Linked DNA regions of Homo sapiens. The protein of the gene in region 1 interacts with the protein of each later gene in a pairwise test. Each region holds a gene or a part of one and is shown on either strand. Other genes may lie near its edges.

Evidence for each region. The genes of interacting proteins can lie anywhere in the genome.
Region 2: the proteins of UBAC1 (region 1) and RNF216 interact in binary tests that used the Homo sapiens proteins (3 or more experiments, as listed by UniProt).
Region 3: the proteins of UBAC1 (region 1) and MECOM interact in a two-hybrid assay, tested with the Homo sapiens proteins (one study listed by BioGRID).

Annotation. Positions count from the first base shown.
Region 1 is NC_000009.12:135,932,457-135,937,390, reverse strand, and holds the end of UBAC1 (ubiquitin-associated domain-containing protein 1), read left to right. Parts: intron 1-3,875; coding exon 3,876-3,991; 3' UTR 3,992-4,422; downstream 4,423-4,934.
Region 2 is NC_000007.14:5,778,656-5,786,020, reverse strand, and holds the start of RNF216 (E3 ubiquitin-protein ligase RNF216), read left to right. Parts: upstream 1-4,357; 5' UTR 4,358-4,480; intron 4,481-5,145; exon of another isoform or gene 5,146-6,036; intron 6,037-7,357; exon of another isoform or gene 7,358-7,365.
Region 3 is NC_000003.12:169,114,705-169,121,733, reverse strand, and holds part of MECOM (histone-lysine N-methyltransferase MECOM), read left to right. Parts: intron 1-521; coding exon of another isoform or gene 522-524; coding exon 525-678; intron 679-4,994; coding exon 4,995-6,351; intron 6,352-7,029.

The DNA.
Region 1 (4,934 bases):
CGGCCCACTGCAACCTCCGCCTCCCAGGTTCAAGCAATTCTCCTGCCTCAGCCTCCTGAGTACCTGGGATTACAGGCGTGCACTACCACGCCTGGCTAATTTTTCGTATTTTAGTAGAGACGGCTTTCACCATGTTTGCCAGGCTGGTCTCGAACTCCTGACCTCGTGATCCACCTGCCTCAGCCTCCCTAAGTGCTGGGATTACAGACCTGTTGGTCCCCAGGAGCTGAGTTCCTGGATGTTGGGAGGGCCTTTGCCACCCGAGCAGGCTGGAAGTGTCTCTGGAGCTGCGATGGCCGTGCCCTGATCTTGAAGGCTGGCCTTCTTTCAGAAGCGTATTGGCCGCCTGTAGAACCTTGGCTGTGAGAGACCTTCCGCTCAGCGTTTGGCCTGCTTTTCTCTTGGATTGTTTTCTTATTCATTCAGAAAGGTCCTCACCTCCTGGATGCTGACCCTTTTCCCATTATTTGTGTTGCAGATGCCGTTGTTCAGTTTCTGGTTTATTTCCTCACACTGATGGGCAGAATCCCGTGTTTTGATGTCCTTCAGTGTGTCTGTATTTTTTTTAAGATGTGAACCTTTAAAGAAAACCCTCCATGGCTGGGCGTGGTGGCTCACGCCTGTAATCCCAGCACTTTGGGAGGCTGAGGCAGGTGGATCACGAGGTCAGGAGTTCAAGACCAGCCTGGCCAAGATGGTGAAACGCTGTCTTTACTAAAAATACAAAAAATTAGTTGGGCATGGTGGTATGCACCTGTAATCCCAGCTACTCTGGAGCTGAGGCAGAGAATTGCTTAAACCTGGGGGGCGGAGGTTGCAGTGAGCCGAGATCGTGCCACTGCACTCTAGCCTGGGCGTCAGAGCAAGACTCCACCTCAAAAAAAAAAAAAAGAAAAAGGAAAACCCTCCTATCCGAAAGTCAGAAACACGTTTTCCTTTTATTTTTTTTTCCAAAAATGTTAAAAGTTTCTCTTAATTTAAGTCCATAATCTACCTAGAAGTATGTGTGTGGTGTGAGGTAGGGATCTTCTTTGTACCCAAATTCTAAAACTTGAGAATGGTCTTTTGTGAGTTTATTTTTATTCTTAGTGATTCCTTTCACACTGAAAGCATATTCCTCCTAGCTCTCCAGCTGTTTGTATACCTTAGGATGTTAGTGTGTGCTGCCTTGGGGTCTGTCCAATAACTTTTTCTTTTTTTTTTCCTAATAGAAATAGGCTCTTTCTCTGTCACCCAGGCTAGAGTGCAGTGATGGCGCCACTGTCCATGCAAGATCTGCCCCCAGCACACACACTTGCCCACCTCCATATTATAGACAAGACCTTCATTGTTTTAACTTGTATTCCTCTTTTTTTTTTTTTTTTTGAGATGGAATCTCGCTCTGTCACCCAGGCTGGAGTGCAGTGGCACGATCTCAGCTCACTGCAAGCTCCGCCTACCGGGTTCACGCCATTCTCCTGCCTCAGCCTCCTGAGTAGCTGGGACTACAGGTGCCCGCCACCGTGCCCGGCTAATTTTTTGTATTTTTAGTAGAGACAGGGTTTCACCGTGTTAGCCAGGATGGTCTTGATCTCCTGACCTCGTGATCCGCCCGTCTCGGCCTCCCAAAGTGCTGGGATTACAGGCTTGAGCTACTGCGCCTGGCCACTTGCATTCCTTTTGGTTATTAGCAATGTTGAATACTTTTCTGTTGGCCATTGCATTTCTTCTTTTACATACTGTCTATGCGTGTCATCTATTTGTTTTCCTTCTTTTTATGGAGACAGGGTCTTGATCTGTCACCCAGGCTGGAGTGCAGTGGTACAATCACAGCTTACTGCAGCCTTGACCTCCTGGGCTCAAGTCATCCTCATGGGTAGTTATGACTACAGGCATGCACGACCATGCCCAGCTATTTTTTTTGTTGTTGTTGAGATGGGGTCTCGTTTTTTTGCTCAGGCTAGTCTTGAACTCCTGGCTTCAAGCGCTCCCCCCACCTCTGCCTTCTAGAGTGCTGGGATTGTAGGCGAGAGCCATTGTGCCTGGCACATGTGTTTTTCAATTGCAATATTAATCCTAGAGCTTCCTTAATAGCTTCTTGGATATTAGGCACATCTTCCTTTGTTGAATGTTGTAAACTGTTTTTGCTCTCTAATTTTGTGTGGCATTTTCTGACATACAGAAGTTAGGATATACAGAAGACAGTCCTTCCTCAGGTTGGGCATGGTGGCTCATGCCTGTAATTGTAGCACTTTGGGAGGTTGAGGCAAGAGGATCACTTGAGCTCAGGAGTTCGAGACCAGCCTGGGTAACATAGCAGGACCTCCTCTCTACTAAAAAAGCAAACAAACAAAAAAACAAAATCAGCCAGGAGTGGTGGCACACGTACCTGTAGTCCCTGCTACTCAGGGGACTGAGGTGGGAGGATCATTGAGTCTGGGAGTTCAAGGCTGCAGTGAGCCATGATCACTCCACTGCACTCCAGCCTGGGCAACAAAGCAAGTCGCTGTCTCAAAAAAAAATTAAATTCAAAAAGGAAAGTCCTTCCTCAGATAAATAATCATCTGTGTGGTTTTTCATATTTAACTCTTTATCTTTTTGTTCAACTCTTTCATCCTTCCAGAATTTATTTTGCTGTTTATTGAGAGGAAATGGGAAATTAAGTTCCCCGCCCTGTGTGTGAAACAGCTGTTTCGCACCTTATAGTTTGTTCTTTCTGAGTCTTTTTCTGGGATTTTTATTTTTATTTTTTGAGACGGAGTCTCACTCTGCTGCCCAGGCTGGAGTGCAGTGGCGCAATCTCGGCTCACTGCCAGCTCCGCCTCCCTGGTTCATGCTATTCTCCTGCCTCAGCCTTCCGAGTAGCTGGGATTATAGGCGCCTGCCACCACGCCCAGCTAATTTTTTATATTTTTAGTAGAGACAGGGTTTTACCGTATTAGCCAGGATGGTCTCGATCTCCTGACCTCATGATCCGCCTGCTTCGGCCTCCCAAAGTGTTGGAATTACAGGCATGAGCCACCGTGCCTGGCTTTTTCTGAGATTTTAAAGTGGTTTTTGGAGACTTTTAATCAGAACACCAGAGGATTGTTTTAAGGCCTGGGGATTGTCCAATCATGAACAGAGCCAAGTTGGGTTCACTCTGAGCTCTGTGCTCAGCCATGGGCTACTGGGCCGTGAATGGCTGTGAATTCTGTAGTGAGCACTGTCCCTGGAGCCTGTAGACCTGGGGCCACTTATGCTGAAGTGCGTCCATGTGTGTCAGGTCAGCATGGAGCCATCGATCCTGGCAGAGGGGCTGGCAGAACGCGTGCTCCTTCACAGTGGGTGGAACAGAGAGCTTTTTGCTAAAAGCCACCTGTTTTGGGGAAACAGTTTTGTAAAGCTGTTAAAACCCAAGTTTTCATTTTGAAGAAGTGCTGTGTTGCATTTTTAATGTGCTGGTTTTTTGAAGAAGGAATTTTCTGAAGGCTGAGCATTACGTTTTTCCAGTTTGTTGTTAACTTTGCAACAGTGTCTGTGTGTGTCCTTTCTGCATCTGCTGACCTTCTCGGGGTGGGATTGGAAGTGGAGTTGTTGGGGAAGATGATTTTTGAGCCCTGGCGGCTGCCAGACAGCTGCCGAGAGTGGGGGTGCCATGAGCACGCACAGGCACACTGCCCACCTGCCAGAATTGAGTGCATGACTCTCTGTGATCAGATCTGATTTGATGGGTGCATCCGATGGAGTTGGGTGGGTTTCAGCCTGAGAGTGCACACTTAGCAGTGAGCTCTGTGTGGCCTTTGTATTGGAGACGCACCCTCTTCATTAGGAAGCTGCCGAAGAGGAAAGTCACGCCTGTGCCTGTGGGCTGAGTGGGGGCGTGGGCACTCAGGCTGGCTCTGTTTTCCCTGCAGCATTTGAAGACATGCTGGAGAACCCACTGAACAGCACCCAGTGGATGAATGATCCAGAAACGGGGCCTGTCATGCTGCAGATCTCTAGAATCTTCCAGACACTAAATCGCACGTAGGTGGCGTTGTTCCACTCGGCTATCAGGCCACAGCAGCCCCCTGGTGCGGCCCGAGACCGGGCAGAGTGGACCTCACCTGGAAACTCACCTTCAGCGCCTCAGCCCTGGACTGTTAGAGGTGCTGCAGCTGCTCCTGCTCTCTGATCTTATTGCTTATAAACTTTGGTGACGGTAGTGTGTAAGGCCGTATTTTTAGCATCTGACAGGTGTTTACAAAAAAGTGGTTGTCGCACTGGGAAGTGGAGTGATGGCCTCGTCTCCAGTGCTCCTCTGGGCTCTTGAGTTGCTGCTTGAATTGCCGTGTAGACATTTGCTTGGAGAGTCCACTTGTTATTTGACGGAGGTAGGTTTCAACCCAGAGTTAATGTCAAGCATGCTAATTTAACTAGTCACTCACAGATGACTTTTCTTTAATAAAGTCCCTTTTCCTATTTCCTGTCTTCGTCTTTTCTTGGTGCCGCACAAGAAACCCGTGCGTCCCCGAGAGGCCACATCCCCGCGGCTCCGTGCCGGCTGCTCTGACCCGGGGCGGGCACCGGGGCCACCGCAGCATGTGGGAGGCCTTGTGGCCATGTTTGGTTGGCAAAGCCTCGTGTTGTATTGGGTTTAAGGGACTGGAGCTGAGCCCGTATTCCTGGGACACAGGTCCTGAGCCCAAGCACGGCTGCCTCCGCCTACCTCTGGCCTCTTCCTCCTTTTTTTTCATTTTAAAAAACATGACCGGTGTCTTAAAATGAGAAAATGAATTTATTTTGTTTTTTGTGAACTCTGCTCATTATTGTTGCTGGAAGCAGTCAGTTCCGAGCTGTTTGTTTTGAACTTCTCTTCTGAACCAGCCCCCTCCCCTTCTGAACTCTGCTTGCATTGTAGCTGAGTAAGAATGTTTTCGGAAAATGTTTCTCTCCACACATCTAGGTCTTTTCATTGTTTTTGAGATTTAGAT
Region 2 (7,365 bases), on another chromosome or scaffold:
AGGCAGGAGGATCACTTGAGGCCAGGAGTTTGAGACCAGCCTGAGAAACACAGCGAGACCCCATCTATACAAAAAAATTAAAAAATTAGTCGGGCGTGGTGGCACACACCTGTAGTCCCAGCTACTCAGGAGGCAGGGGTGGGAGGGTCACTTGAGCCTGGGAGGTCAAGGCTGCAGTGAACTATGATTGACTGAGTCACTGCACTCTAGCCTCGGTGACAGAGTGAGACCCCCAACCCCACCCCACCCCCCTCCAAAAAAAAACAGGGCCGGGCACAGTGGCTCACGCCTGTGATGCCAACACTTTGGAAGGCCGAAGCAGGCAGATCACCTGAGGTCAGGAGTTCAAGACTAGCTTGGCCAACGTGGTGAAACCCTGCCTCTACTGAAAATACAAAAATTAGGCGGATGTGGTGGCGGGCACCTGTAATCTCAGCTACTTGGGCTGAGACTCGAGAATCACTTGAATCCGGGAGGCAGAGTTTGCAGTGAGCCAAGATCATGCCATTGCACTCCAGCATGAGCGACAAGAGTGAAACTCCGTCTCCAAAAAAAAAAAAAAAAAAAAAAGGCCAGAGGCTTCAAAAGTAACCAGAATGATTCCAGTTCAAAAGTAACCAGAATGATTCCAGTTCAAAAGTAACCAGAATGATTCCAGACAACCTAGAAGGAGGGAGTAGCTTCCTCTCGCCCTCACTGGGAAAAATGCAGAGATATGATAGTTGTCTTTATGACTCCGAAAATGCTTAAGACAAGAAGAGCATGTAAACAAATAACTCCTATGAGAGCTTCTCAATTCACACATGATCCCATTTCATCCTTGCAAGAACACCGGGCAATAGATAATATCTTAAAATTCCCATTTTACAAATAAAAAATTCCCCGCCAGACATGGCAGTTCACATCTGCCATCCCACCACTTTAGGAGGGCAAGATGGAAGGATCACTTAGAGCCAGGAGTTCGAGACCACCCTGGGCAACAAAGCGAGACTCTGTTTCTATAATTTTTTTTTTTTTTTGAGGCGAAGTCTTGCTGTGTTACCTAGGCTGGGGTGCAGTGGCGCAACCTCGGCTCACTGCAACCTCTGCCTCCTGGGTTAAAGTGATTCTCCTGCCTCAGCCTCCTGTGTAGCTGGGACTAGAGGCATGTGTCACCACACCTGGCTATCTATTAATGTTTTTTTAAATTAAACTTCAAAATAAAGGCCTGGCATGGTGGCTTACACCTGTAATCCCAGCACTTTGGGCTGAGACAGGCAGATCACCTGAGGTGAGGAGTTTGAGACCAGCATGGCCAACATGGTGAAACCCCGTCTCTACAAAAAATATTTTAAAAATTAGCCGGGTGTGATGGTGGGTGCCTGTAGTCCCAGCTACTTGGGAGACTGAGCCAGGAGAATCGCTTGAACCTGGGAGGCAGAGGTTCCAGTGAGGCAAGATCGTGCCACTGCACTCCAGCCTGGGCGATGGAAGGAGACACCGTCTCAAAAATAAATAAATAAAGACAAAAATAAAGTCTCTCTTCTCATTGCCATCACGTCTGAGTCAGAGTCTCCAAAAAGCCTGAACAAATAAAAAATTCCAGACTCAGGCCAGGTGCGGTGGCTCATGCCTGTAATTCCAGCACTTTGGGAGGCCAAGGCGGGTGGATCACGAGGTCAGGAGATCGAGACCATCCTGGCTAACACGGCGAAACCCCATCTCTACTAAAAATACAAAAAAAAATTAGCCCTTGGTGGCGGGCGCCTGTAGTCCCAGCTACTCGGGAGGCTGAGGCAGGAGAACGGCGTGAGCCCAGGAGGCGGAGCTTGCAGTGAACCAAGATCGCGCCACCGCACTCCAGACTGGGTGGCACAGCAAGACTTCATCTCAAAAAAAAAAAAAAAAAAAGCTAGACTCAGAGAGGTTACTCGATCGCACCTGCCTTGGGTGTGACACCAACCACAGAGGGGTTCAGTGGTCCGGAAAGAACCTTGCACTCCTGCTAAGATCACCAAGCTCTCCTTCCAATACTGCTTTCTTCCAACATCTCAAAGGGCTTATGAGGACCATCCTAAGAAGAAGGCTGTAACTGACAGCGATTATCCACCTCCCCCAAGAGGACCAGCATGGAGGATAAGCTCATCAAGGCCAATGCCTTTGTTTTACCTTCCAGGTGATTCCAGGATCTCATCTCAGGTAAGTATCTATCTTAAACTCTCTCTCCTGTTCACCCTCTAATGTCTCCCATGCACTGCACCCTCTAACTCAGGGCCTGACATCTGTAAGATCCCTAGATCCTCGTCCTGTTCTGTAAGCAGCCCTTCAATTTCTACTTCACTGAAACATGACTATTCCCTCAGGACACTGTTCCCCAAAGCACTATGAGTAGTGGTCTTTTTCTGTCCCATGCAAGCCCCCATAAGCCACACTCTACTGTCTTAGAGAAGGAACACTCATTGCCGCATCAAGACTATTGTTCCTCTCATTTCCCTGTTTTGTTTTTGTTTGCTTCTTTTGAGACAGGCTGTTGTTCTGTCATCCAGGCTGGAGTGCAGCAGTGCAATCATAGCTCACAGCAGCCTCGGACTCCTGGGCTCAAACAATCCTCTGGCCGGGTTTAGTGGCTCGCTCCTGTAATTCCAGCACTTTGGTAGGCCGAGGTGGGTAGATTACCTGAGGTCAGGAGTTCAAGACCAGCCTGGCCAACATGGTGAAACCCTGTCTCTACTGAAAATACGAAAATTAGCCGGGCGTGGTGGCACATGCTTGTAATCCCAGCTACTCAGGAGGCTGAGGCAGGAGAATCGCTTGAGCCCAGAAGGTGGAGGTTGCAGTGAGCCAAGATCGTGCCACCGCACTCCAGCCTGGCTGACAGAGTGAGATTCTGTCCAAAAAAACAAAACAAACAAAACAAAACAAAACAAAAAAATCCTCCCACCTCAGTCTCCTGAGTAGCTGGGACTATAGGTGCGCACCACCATGCCCGGCTAATTTTTATTTTTGTAAAGATGGGGTCTTACTCTATTGCCCAGGATCGTCTCAAACTCCTGGCTTCAAGCCATCCTCCCACCTCCATTTCCCAAAATGTTCGGATTCCAGGTATAAGCCACTATGCCCAGCCCAGACTCATTTATCTAATTACTGACTTGATATCTCTACTTGAAGGTGTACTTGGCAATTTTTTTTTTTTTGAGACACAGTCTCACTCTGTTACCCAGGCTGAAGTGCAGTGGCATAATCACTGCACTACAACCTCCCCCTCCTCGGTTCAAGCAATTCTTGTGCCTCGGCCTCCCGAGTAGCTCGGATTACAGGCACGCACCACCATGCCCAGCTAATTTTTGTATTTTTAGTAGAGACGGGGTTTCACCATGGTGGCCAGGCTGGTCTCGAACTCCTGACCTCAAGTGATCTGCCTGCCTCGGCCTCCCAATGTGCTGGGATTACAGGCGTGAACCACCACGCCTGGCCAGCAATTATTTTAAGAGTTGGGGTCTTGCTATTTTGCTAAGGCTGGTCTTGAACTCCTGGCCTCAAGCGATCCTCCTGCCTTGGCCTTCCAAAGCGCGGGGATTATGGACATGAGCCACTGTGCCCAGCAGGAGCAGTATTTTAGTCAGTTATTCACTTGCTCACTAAAACCTAAACTTCCTGAGGCCAGGAACACATTTTACTTTTTTTTTTTTTCGAGATGGAGGGTTGCTCTGTTGCCCAGGCTGGAGTGCAGGGGCGCCATGTTGGCTCACTACAACCTCCGCCTCCCAGGTTCAAGTGATTTTCCCGCCTCAGCCTCCTGAGTAGCTGGGATTACAGGCATCCGCCACCATGCCTGGCTAATTTTTTTATTTTTGGTAGAGACGGGTTTCACCATGTTGGCCAGGCTGGTCTCCAACGTCTGACCTCAAGTGATCCACCCGCCTTGGCCTCCCAAAGTGCTGGGATTACAGGCGTGAGCCACTGTGCCCAGCCATGGGACCCACTTTACTCTTAATTTCCCCAATTCCTAGAACAGTGTGTGGCCCACAGGAAATCCGCAGAATATATTTGCAGAATGAATGAATGACTTGCCAAACGAATTAGGGCAAATCAGTAGATATCGAGTAAACATCCACAACCACCTGCCCCATACCCTTTTCAGCTCTGGGGAGATGGTGGCTCCTTGTGGGGTCGGATATGGGGGTCTCCTTTCCTTTCACCCTCCTGCCTCGTGGGGGAGTCAAGTCTCCGCAGGCGGAGAGCCCGGATGCAGGCGCGACTAGGCGGCCCTCTCTATGGTGAGCCCCCCGGTCCCTCCTCCGCAGTACCCGGAGTGCCTCTATGGTTCTTCCTGTCCTTAGTCGGGAGGGGGCGCTGTGCGCAGGCGCGAGGTGACGCCGCGGCAGGGCCGGAAGGAGTGCAGCGGCTGCCACGGAGCTCGCAGCTGCGGCTTCTGAGGAGTAAGCGGCGCGGTAGCGAAGGCCGCCGAACCTGCCTGGCTAGCCGGCGACTTGAGTGACGAGTGAGTGTCGGCTGCGGGGCGCGCTCGAGCTCCTGGGCGGGTCTGTGAGGCGACGCGGCCTCTCTGAGGGGCGCCTCTGTGGAGCTCCGGGGGTGGGGGCGGGGGCGCGGGCCGTGAGGGCCGCCGAGCTGAGGGGCGCGGGCCGAGGCCCGGGCGGGATCGGGCCAAGGGGCTGGGCTGGGCGTCTCGAGCCCGGTGCGGTGGCGAGGCTGGAGCGACAAAGGCGCTGAGCGGCCGGGTGGCCCCCTCTCGCCACTTCGCGAAGTTTCGCGGGCCGGCCCCTCGGGTCTGCTGCGCGAGGGCAACAGCCCGGGAGACCGCGCTTCCCTCCCCCGGGCCCGAGGCCGCCGCGGAGGCGGTGTCCGTGCACCCGAGCGCGGCCTGGAGGAGCGGCGGGAGGCGGGCCGTGCCTGTGAACCCCAGCCCAGGCGGGCGGCGTTTTTCCTCCTCTTCCCTCACATCTGGAGCGCGTGTTCCGCGAAAGTTGGCGACTGTCACCCGGCACTCGCGAGGGCGCCGCAAGTGCGTCAAACCCTTCTGCGGGGCGCTGGGGGCTGGCCCGGCTCGGGTGTCCGGGCGCTGGGCAGCGAGCGAGGCCGCTGTCCCCGCGTCGAGGTGGTTCTGCTCCCGGTGGAACAGGACCAGGGATCCAAGACTCTGGGCCACTTGCAACCAACCCTGGAGCGTGCGCGGCGTGCGGGTTACAGAAATTTCTGACAAATCCGACAGGGCTCTGTAAATCCCTAAGGGCCTGGGTAGCAGCTGTCCTAGGTACTTAGATCGTGCAAAGAGAACGTTCTTTTTTCTTTTACTTTTTTTTTTTTCTCCTTTTCTTTGAGACGGAGTCTTGCTCTGTTGCCCAGGCTGGAGTGCAGTGGCGCGATCCCGGCTCACTGCAAGCTCTGCCTCCCGGATTCAAGCGATTTTCCTGCCTCAGCCTCACAGGGATTGCCTCAGCTGGGATTACAGGCATTTGCCACCACGTCCAGCTAATTTTTGTATTTTTAGTAGAGACGGGATTTCTCCGTGTTGGCCAGGCTGGTCTCTAACGTCTGACCTCAGGTGATCCCTCCGCCTCGGCCTCCCAAAGTGCTACAGTCTTTTCAAAAGACGTTTCAGATATGTTCTCCGGGACCCTCGGGCCCTTCAGTAAGAAGCGCCCTGGCTGAAAACCCACACGTTCACCTACAGAAGAAGCACTGTGACGTAGAGGGTGAGCAGAGCAGAGGGCCTCACAGTGGCCCTCACATGCACCTGGCTCCAGCCTGGCCAGGTCATTTTGCCCTGGTGGGCCTGTGCCTCAAAAATGGGGTTTCTTCCCTTGTGAGGAAGACCCATGAATTAGTAACGGAATTGCCAGGAATGCTAAAAACTATCTAAATGCCATGTATTGTTTTCAAGCTGTTACTCCTGGAAGGGGCTGGGTTGGCATTGTTTTAGAGGTTAGGAGCCAAACATCAGCTCATCTATTCTCCAGCTGTTGTTTGTCCTCCATCTTCCTGCAATAGTCAGGCACAGGGTCTTATAAAAATGGGTTTGTGCTGCTGTATGTTTCGGTGGGTACCTTTGTTTACTGAATGGGATGTAGGTGGGGGACCAGAGCATATCCGCGTCCCTCGGAAACAGTGGCGTTTTAGATGTAGTATGTCCCGTCAGCTCCTCTCTGCCCCACCCACCCCAGCCCATTCATTGAGCATTTTTTTTTTTTTTTTGAGGCGGAGTCTGGCTGTATTTCCCAGGCTAAAGTGCAGTGGTGCCATCTCTGCCCACTGCACCCTCCGCCTGCCAGCTTCAAGTAATTCTCCTGCCTCAGCCTCCCGAGTAGCTGGAATTACAGGCGCGCACCACCACGCTCGGCTAACTTTTTTTTTTTTTTTTTTTTTTAAGAGACGGAGTCTAGCTGTGCTGCCCAACTCCTGGGTTTAAGTGACCCTCAGCCTCCCAAAGCACAAGAATTACAGGCTTTAGCCACCGTGCTCTGCCAGAACATTCTTTACGCGCTGAGAAGGGAGAGAAGCGGGAAGATTCTATGAAACATCTCAATTTAGTCGGCTTGCTTTAAGGAAGAAGGCTAATACATGGCCTGGCTTTGCCTTGGTTTTGTATTTCATAATTTATTGCGCCTGGGGTGTGGGGAGTAGTGGTGGATTTGAGGAAATGCCTGGAGAGTCTGGGCCAGATTTTGGACCCCCTGGCAAACCTCATTCGAGGCTTTAGATTTTTACCCTGATTAGAGCAGCAGCAGCTAATAAAAGAGAACTCCTGAAGCCCCTGTGGAGAAATCTGATAAAGAAGGGTTAGGTGTGAGTGAGGCAGATCGAAAGTTGATGAATAGGATAGTTGAGAGAGCTGGTATTTGCTGATTCTACTACCAGCTACTATTTAATGTGTTTACAAAATTCTAGGCATTGCTATATTCTAGCTCTTTAGAGACATAATTCATTCTCATACCTGATATCATTATATTTGCATTATTGTTAAAGATAATAGAACATAGTTGGGAATGGTGTGGCTCACGCCCGTAATCCCAGCACTTTGGGAGGCCGAGGCGGGCAGATCACCTAAGGTCAGGAGTTCGAGACCAGCCTGGCCAACATGGTGAAACCCCGTCTCTACTAAAAATACAAAAATTAGCCAGGTGTGATGGCGTGCGCCTGTAATCCCAGCTACTGGGGAGGCTGAGGCAGGAGAATCACATGAACTCGGGAGGCGGAGGTTGCAGTGATCCGAGATTGTGCCACTGCACTCCAGCCTGGGTGACAGAGCGAGACTCCGTCTCAAAAATAATAATAATTTTAAAAAAAGAAACTGAGGTGCTGAAAAATATCTAGTCCCAAAACTTGTAAGGGTCAGCGTGGAACTTGAACTCAGTTTGGACCCAGAGT
Region 3 (7,029 bases), on another chromosome or scaffold:
TGGCTTTTTTATTTTTGTTTTTAGTACAATGTCTAAAGGAATGGTTTTAGCTTGCTAGTAACTCACTGAAAGAGTGTTAGAATTTTACGCCCTAGGGAAACTCTTTAAATAGATTTAATGTAGTTAGTCAAAATCCTCCAAATTTTTGTACACAATGTGTCTTTATTTAAAGGGTGAAAATAGCACACCAGTTTTAATAATGGCTTAACCAGCATTTTATTATTCAACTCAAGTCACTCTAAATGGTATCAAAAAGGCCTTGAATATGGCCTAATAGTGCCATTCATTATTTGGTTCAACTGATACCAGTGGATACACCATGCTAAGGATATAGAGCAGAATAATTTACAGTTCCTACCCTAGAGGAGAGTACATTTTGGAAATTAGAGGAGAGTACACTTTTGGTCTTTGGGGAAAAGAAAAACAAAACAAATAAGAAAAATTTCTTCTTGAGTCATCCCGGGTCTTCTTTATTGTGCCCTTGAGTTAAGTTTCTTGATTAATCAGTACTCATTTCCTAGCAGGTTTTCACGGACCCTAGCAACCTTCAGCGGCACATTCGCTCTCAGCATGTCGGTGCCCGGGCCCATGCATGCCCGGAGTGTGGCAAAACGTTTGCCACTTCGTCGGGCCTCAAACAACACAAGCACATCCACAGCAGTGTGAAGCCCTTTATCTGTAAGTTTTCAACACTCCAGCCCTCCTTCCCACATCTGTCTCTTCCCCAAAAGGCACTGTGACCAGGAGAGTGGCTGCACATGGCCTTTAGAGGGTCACCGTGTTAGCTATTTATGGTCCAATCCAGTAGGGCTATTTATGATTACAAGTAAATCTTTTATAATCAGATCCATGGTATTTTGTCCTTGATTCCTGGGGTGTTTTCTTTCAGAAGAAATCAATAACAGGTAGAGAAAAGAAAATTCATTAGATAATCAAAGGGAAACCTCCACAGGTTGTAGGATTTAATCAGGACAATCAGATTTGTCTCATATTGTAAATGTTCATGGCTTTGTAAAGCAGCAAATAGCAGCCATCACTAAACAAGATGAAGTGATTAAAAACCTGTTCTGGATCAGAAAGAGCTGGAAGAAGCCCACCTGGGAAGTAGGCTTACGGCTCTGTGTGCATGTATGTGAGTATATGTGTGTGGAGAGAGCGAGGGGGATGAAATGCTTTTTAATCTACCCATTGTTGCCGATCACAGGCTGTCGGATCTGTAGTTCTCTGTTACTTGAAGAAAAGCAGAACATTTTCACTTAGATGCTGGACATGCTGTTTCTCTTACCCACTGCACCAAAGCAAGTTTATAGGCAGTGTGCTTTTAGGGGACATCTGATCTGACCACCTACTTAGAACATCCCTGTACAGAGCACTGTAGTAACATCCTTCAAATACAATAAAACTCAGCTCTCATTTGCTTTTTCTTCTCTCCGCCCACTCCTATTCTCTGTATTGTGCTCAAACATTTTATAAGTAAAATCAGTTGTTCTTAGTCTACCTGGGCAAAAAATCTGGGCTTCTTTTAATCCATTGCTTGGCGGGGCATATAAATACAATGACTTATTGAGTTGTGCTACAAACGTCAAGACTGATTTTGGACCCAGATACACATAGAATTGGTTGAAGCATACTCAGCACTTGGCAAGACCTCTGACTTTGGTTTGTAGTAGGTATATGAGACACTACTACAGGACCTGATGGAAAAAACTATTTTTCAGTGCCAACATGGAGATGCCAGAGACTAACTCTCCTTTGCCTCGACACAGCTTTCTTTTGTGTGTCCAAGCACCAAAATAGCTTTTCTTTCCTTTTCCAGCTTACACTAGAGTCCTGTTTTGCTCATATGCTCTTCTGTTCCCCGGGTGAAGAGGACTAGCAGATTAAAAAAGGGTGCTCTCATCTCCCTTGGGGAAGCTCTATTGAAGGTCACGGGAAATAAAGCATTCAATAGAAATTTTAGACTTCTTGTCGCAAAAAGGCATTCCTGACTCTTAAGTCTTAATGCCCTGAAAATGTACTTGGAAGTACTACAGGCATACGATATTAAATAGTTCATTTATTTCTGATTCCTCAGAAATAAATTTTGGTAAGTTTTATTATGTTTTGATGTGAGAAAAAACTAGAATAAACCACAAGGAATTCTGATCACTCATTTAATGCTTTCTCTATTATTTAAAATAAAAGTCAGAAAATATAGACTTCTGCTATCGAAGATTCTGGGATCTGGAATTTTAATTGTGTTGAAGACAAGTGTTTCACTTTAAAGTGCCATAGGGTGTCCCTTTCCAATCAGATTGCATAAAGTATTTCCCTTGAATGTATTTTCAGTAATTATTGGTAAATTTAAATAGCAGATGGCATTCTTCAAATTTAAAATCTGCCAGAGAACCATGGAGTAATTATGAATAATAGCCATGTAATTTCAGAACAAAAGAGATTAAAGATCAGGAAATGGTGTGGAGACTTGAGTGGAGGAGGTTCACCTAGGGCTGATATCTGTTTCTCACCAGAAGGCCACACACCACGATTTACCCCCACTGGTGTGTTTATGGCAACTGTCTCTTATTACAGTGTGCTGCCACGCTTGAGCCCAAAGTCACCAGTGCTAAGGTAATTACTCACTGCCTTTACAGAAACCTACAGCTTTCCCAAATAGAAACCACATGCTCTAATAGGCTGAATATATTCAAAATGCCTCTTAATTTGTTTAATAAGTAGAAAAATGCAATGTTAACTGCTGGCTAATTCCTTATTACTGAGAAAATTACAGTAGAGTATAAACTTCAACATCAATTGAACCAGTTTACCTGGAGGCCTGGTAGTTTGTGGTATGCCAGGCCAGGCCTTCAAGTGCCGAAAACAAAGCCTCTGCCTAAGAAAACATCCCAGATTCGATGTTCTTGAGCCCAGACACAGACAGCACTCAGCCATGTAACAACGGGTGCCACCAGAAAAGTCAGCTGAACTTCTGTTACTCCAATAGAGAGAAGCTCTTGATTTTTTTTTTTTAAGCCATCTGATTGTAAGAAAGAAGTGTAGAGAGCAACATTTCCTTGCCAAAAAATGACAAGTCTTTGAAAAACTTATGTCTTGGTTGAATACTCATCAAGACATTTTTTCAATGCCTTTTAAGAGGTGTTGCTTTCTTACTTTTTATAATTCCAATAATAAAATATTGTTATTGCTTGTAGCTATAAATTATTCTAATATATCTAGTAAACATCTGATGTTTCTACCTTCTCCATTATTTGATTTTAATTAGTGTATCAAACAGTTTAAATTAGATGTATATTTATGGTGTATGGTTAAATTGTATATACTTTTAAAGCTGACTCTGGTCGATATATTCTGGTAAAATAATTTGAAAAGATATCACCCACATCTTCTATTCCCATTAAAATGCATGTTACAGCCTCTGTAACGTTGTGATTCATCCCACAATTGAAGGCACCTTTAATATTACCAAACACTTTGATATATGCAACAATACACTTTAACCTTTAGTAGTAAAAGAAAGAGATATACCCTTACTTGGTACTTCCTGTTTGGATGTATGTGGGATAATCCAAGCTCTGGGTGAGTTTTGCTTGACTGAAAGTCTATAAAATCTCCTTGACATGAGTTTTTTTTTTTAATTATTATTGCTTTGACTTAGAAGCACAATCATTCTGCACTTAAAGGCAGCCATCATATGAAAGCAATAACTGTTGCATTTTGTCTTCAATTTAATTTCTTAAAATAAATTTGCTTCAACAATTACCAACAAGGTACATCTTGTTTCTGCATGTATTGAACATGCACAGAAGTGTTAAAATAAGCTCACACATAACGTGGCTCAATCCCGTAAAGTAAAATAAAAAATGTGATGCTCAGGGTACTGATACTGTAATACTGCTGGACAGTGAAGTGAGTGATTCTTACCTGGTAAAGGAGTTATTAAGGGTTACAAAGTTTGGTCTTAAAATATACTTGGCTATAGTGGCACATGTGTGAGGAGGAAGATTCTACTTTATTGACAAATTCTTAGCAAAGAGGCATATTTCACAGCTGCATCCAATGCTGTGCCCTTCTTTCTGGATTAGAGCTTTCACAGTGCTCTCCCCTACTGAGCATAGTTGGCTATAACACACAGAAGTCAAGCCTGAGATAACCAGTGTAGATATGACAACAAGTGGACATGTTTCCCAAGGACGGGGTTTTCATAAATGCAGGAAGGTTAGCACAACCACTGGTGTGAGGGGAAGTCAGAGGACGTGATCATAGTTCATGGGAACCAGCAATGCAGGATGGGCTACATTCAATTTAGTTTCCTTTGCAGGCTTAAAATAGAGCCATTGTAAATTATGTCAGTCTTTCTCAAATCATGAAAATGATTGTTAAAAAAAGTCTCAGAATACACAATGTGCATTGTTGTGTGGCTTTGATGTGTGAATGATGAGAGCATATGATATAATACCAATTAAATAATAGCAGGGCAGTCACAGGCTTTTTCCCCAAGGGGAGAGGCAATAAAGGTGAAGTTTCTGGTTGAGGATATTTTATTTTGTTTTGGTGCCTACAAAATAGAATTTTTAAGTACTCTAAAATTTGAAAGGGGTTCTTGTTGTGTTTTGTACGTAATGCATTTTAAGACTAATTTTCAACATTATATTAGTATAATAATTGTGTGGAGAATCAATGCATGATGGAATTTAACTTTTCATAAATATTTAAATACACAAATATTATGCAAAATATTGCACAAGGGGGTGACAAGATATATATATCTATATATATGAAATATTTGTGCTGCCTCAAGACATTTGTCAGGTTGGTTGCCTTGCTTTGGAATCTAGTGAAATGGGGTTTTCTGTGTTTGGAGCACCCAGATTGGTGCCTCCAATGTCTTTTACTGGCTTCCTAATTGAAATTTTGAGTAAACCAATTGTGATATTTGCTAAATTCAGAAGCAATTGACATAAAGCCTGAGATTCTTTTTTGTTGTTTGCACACAGGTGAGGTCTGCCATAAATCCTATACTCAGTTTTCAAACCTTTGCCGTCATAAGCGCATGCATGCTGATTGCAGAACCCAAATCAAGTGCAAAGACTGTGGACAAATGTTCAGCACTACGTCTTCCTTAAATAAACACAGGAGGTTTTGTGAGGGCAAGAACCATTTTGCGGCAGGTGGATTTTTTGGCCAAGGCATTTCACTTCCTGGAACCCCAGCTATGGATAAAACGTCCATGGTTAATATGAGTCATGCCAACCCGGGCCTTGCTGACTATTTTGGCGCCAATAGGCATCCTGCTGGTCTTACCTTTCCAACAGCTCCTGGATTTTCTTTTAGCTTCCCTGGTCTGTTTCCTTCCGGCTTGTACCACAGGCCTCCTTTGATACCTGCTAGTTCTCCTGTTAAAGGACTATCAAGTACTGAACAGACAAACAAAAGTCAAAGTCCCCTCATGACACATCCTCAGATACTGCCAGCTACACAGGATATTTTGAAGGCACTATCTAAACACCCATCTGTAGGGGACAATAAGCCAGTGGAGCTCCAGCCCGAGAGGTCCTCTGAAGAGAGGCCCTTTGAGAAAATCAGTGACCAGTCAGAGAGTAGTGACCTTGATGATGTCAGTACACCAAGTGGCAGTGACCTGGAAACAACCTCGGGCTCTGATCTGGAAAGTGACATTGAAAGTGATAAAGAGAAATTTAAAGAAAATGGTAAAATGTTCAAAGACAAAGTAAGCCCTCTTCAGAATCTGGCTTCAATAAATAATAAGAAAGAATACAGCAATCATTCCATTTTCTCACCATCTTTAGAGGAGCAGACTGCGGTGTCAGGAGCTGTGAATGATTCTATAAAGGCTATTGCTTCTATTGCTGAAAAATACTTTGGTTCAACAGGACTGGTGGGGCTGCAAGACAAAAAAGTTGGAGCTTTACCTTACCCTTCCATGTTTCCCCTCCCATTTTTTCCAGCATTCTCTCAATCAATGTACCCATTTCCTGATAGAGACTTGAGATCGTTACCTTTGAAAATGGAACCCCAATCACCAGGTGAAGTAAAGAAACTGCAGAAGGGCAGCTCTGAGTCCCCCTTTGATCTCACCACTAAGCGAAAGGATGAGAAGCCCTTGACTCCAGTCCCCTCCAAGCCTCCAGTGACACCTGCCACAAGCCAAGACCAGCCCCTGGATCTAAGTATGGGCAGTAGGAGTAGAGCCAGTGGGACAAAGCTGACTGAGCCTCGAAAAAACCACGTGTTTGGGGGAAAAAAAGGAAGCAACGTCGAATCAAGACCTGCTTCAGATGGTTCCTTGCAGCATGCAAGACCCACTCCTTTCTTTATGGACCCTATTTACAGGTAAGCGTGTATGGAAGATGACGAAATATGAGCAGATGTATGAAAGGCGGTATTTCCACTGTAAAGTGATGGCTTTTTAACACATCATTTTTACTATTATTATAAAACAGAGTGAAGTTGTTTGATCTAGTGAACTCATTTTTTATTCTGAAAGTTGGATCATTCTGTTTGAACTTATTTTTGGATGTTTCTGAAGTTGGGGGTTTGGAATAGGCCTACAGAATTTTTTTCCCTTGACAATAAATTTATTTTTAAACACTTTTTTTGGAGTGGAAAATATGGGAAAGTCATATTTAAAGTAAATTGTCAAGTGGCGGAAGAATGAGGATCCTGAAGGATTAATGCAAATATGCGTGGGTACTTAAATGGGTCAGGTTCTTTGGAATGGGGGGGATATCTAACAGCAAGAGTCCACTCTTTTTTGACCTACCAACACATCCTTAATAAGGGCTGGTCATATTGTTTCTAAATAAATCTCTCAGGAGCCCCCAAGTAAATGAAATATTAATCACAGAATATGTTTTGTATATAATATGAGTAGTTGGCTTAAAAAATGTCTCTGTTTAATAGCTTCATTATCCGGTTTCCTTTGATGTAGCAAAAAAATCTTGGGGTGAAACATACAAGTTTAATAAAAGGCCTTTTTGGCAATATTCAGTAATATTCACCTGACCAAAG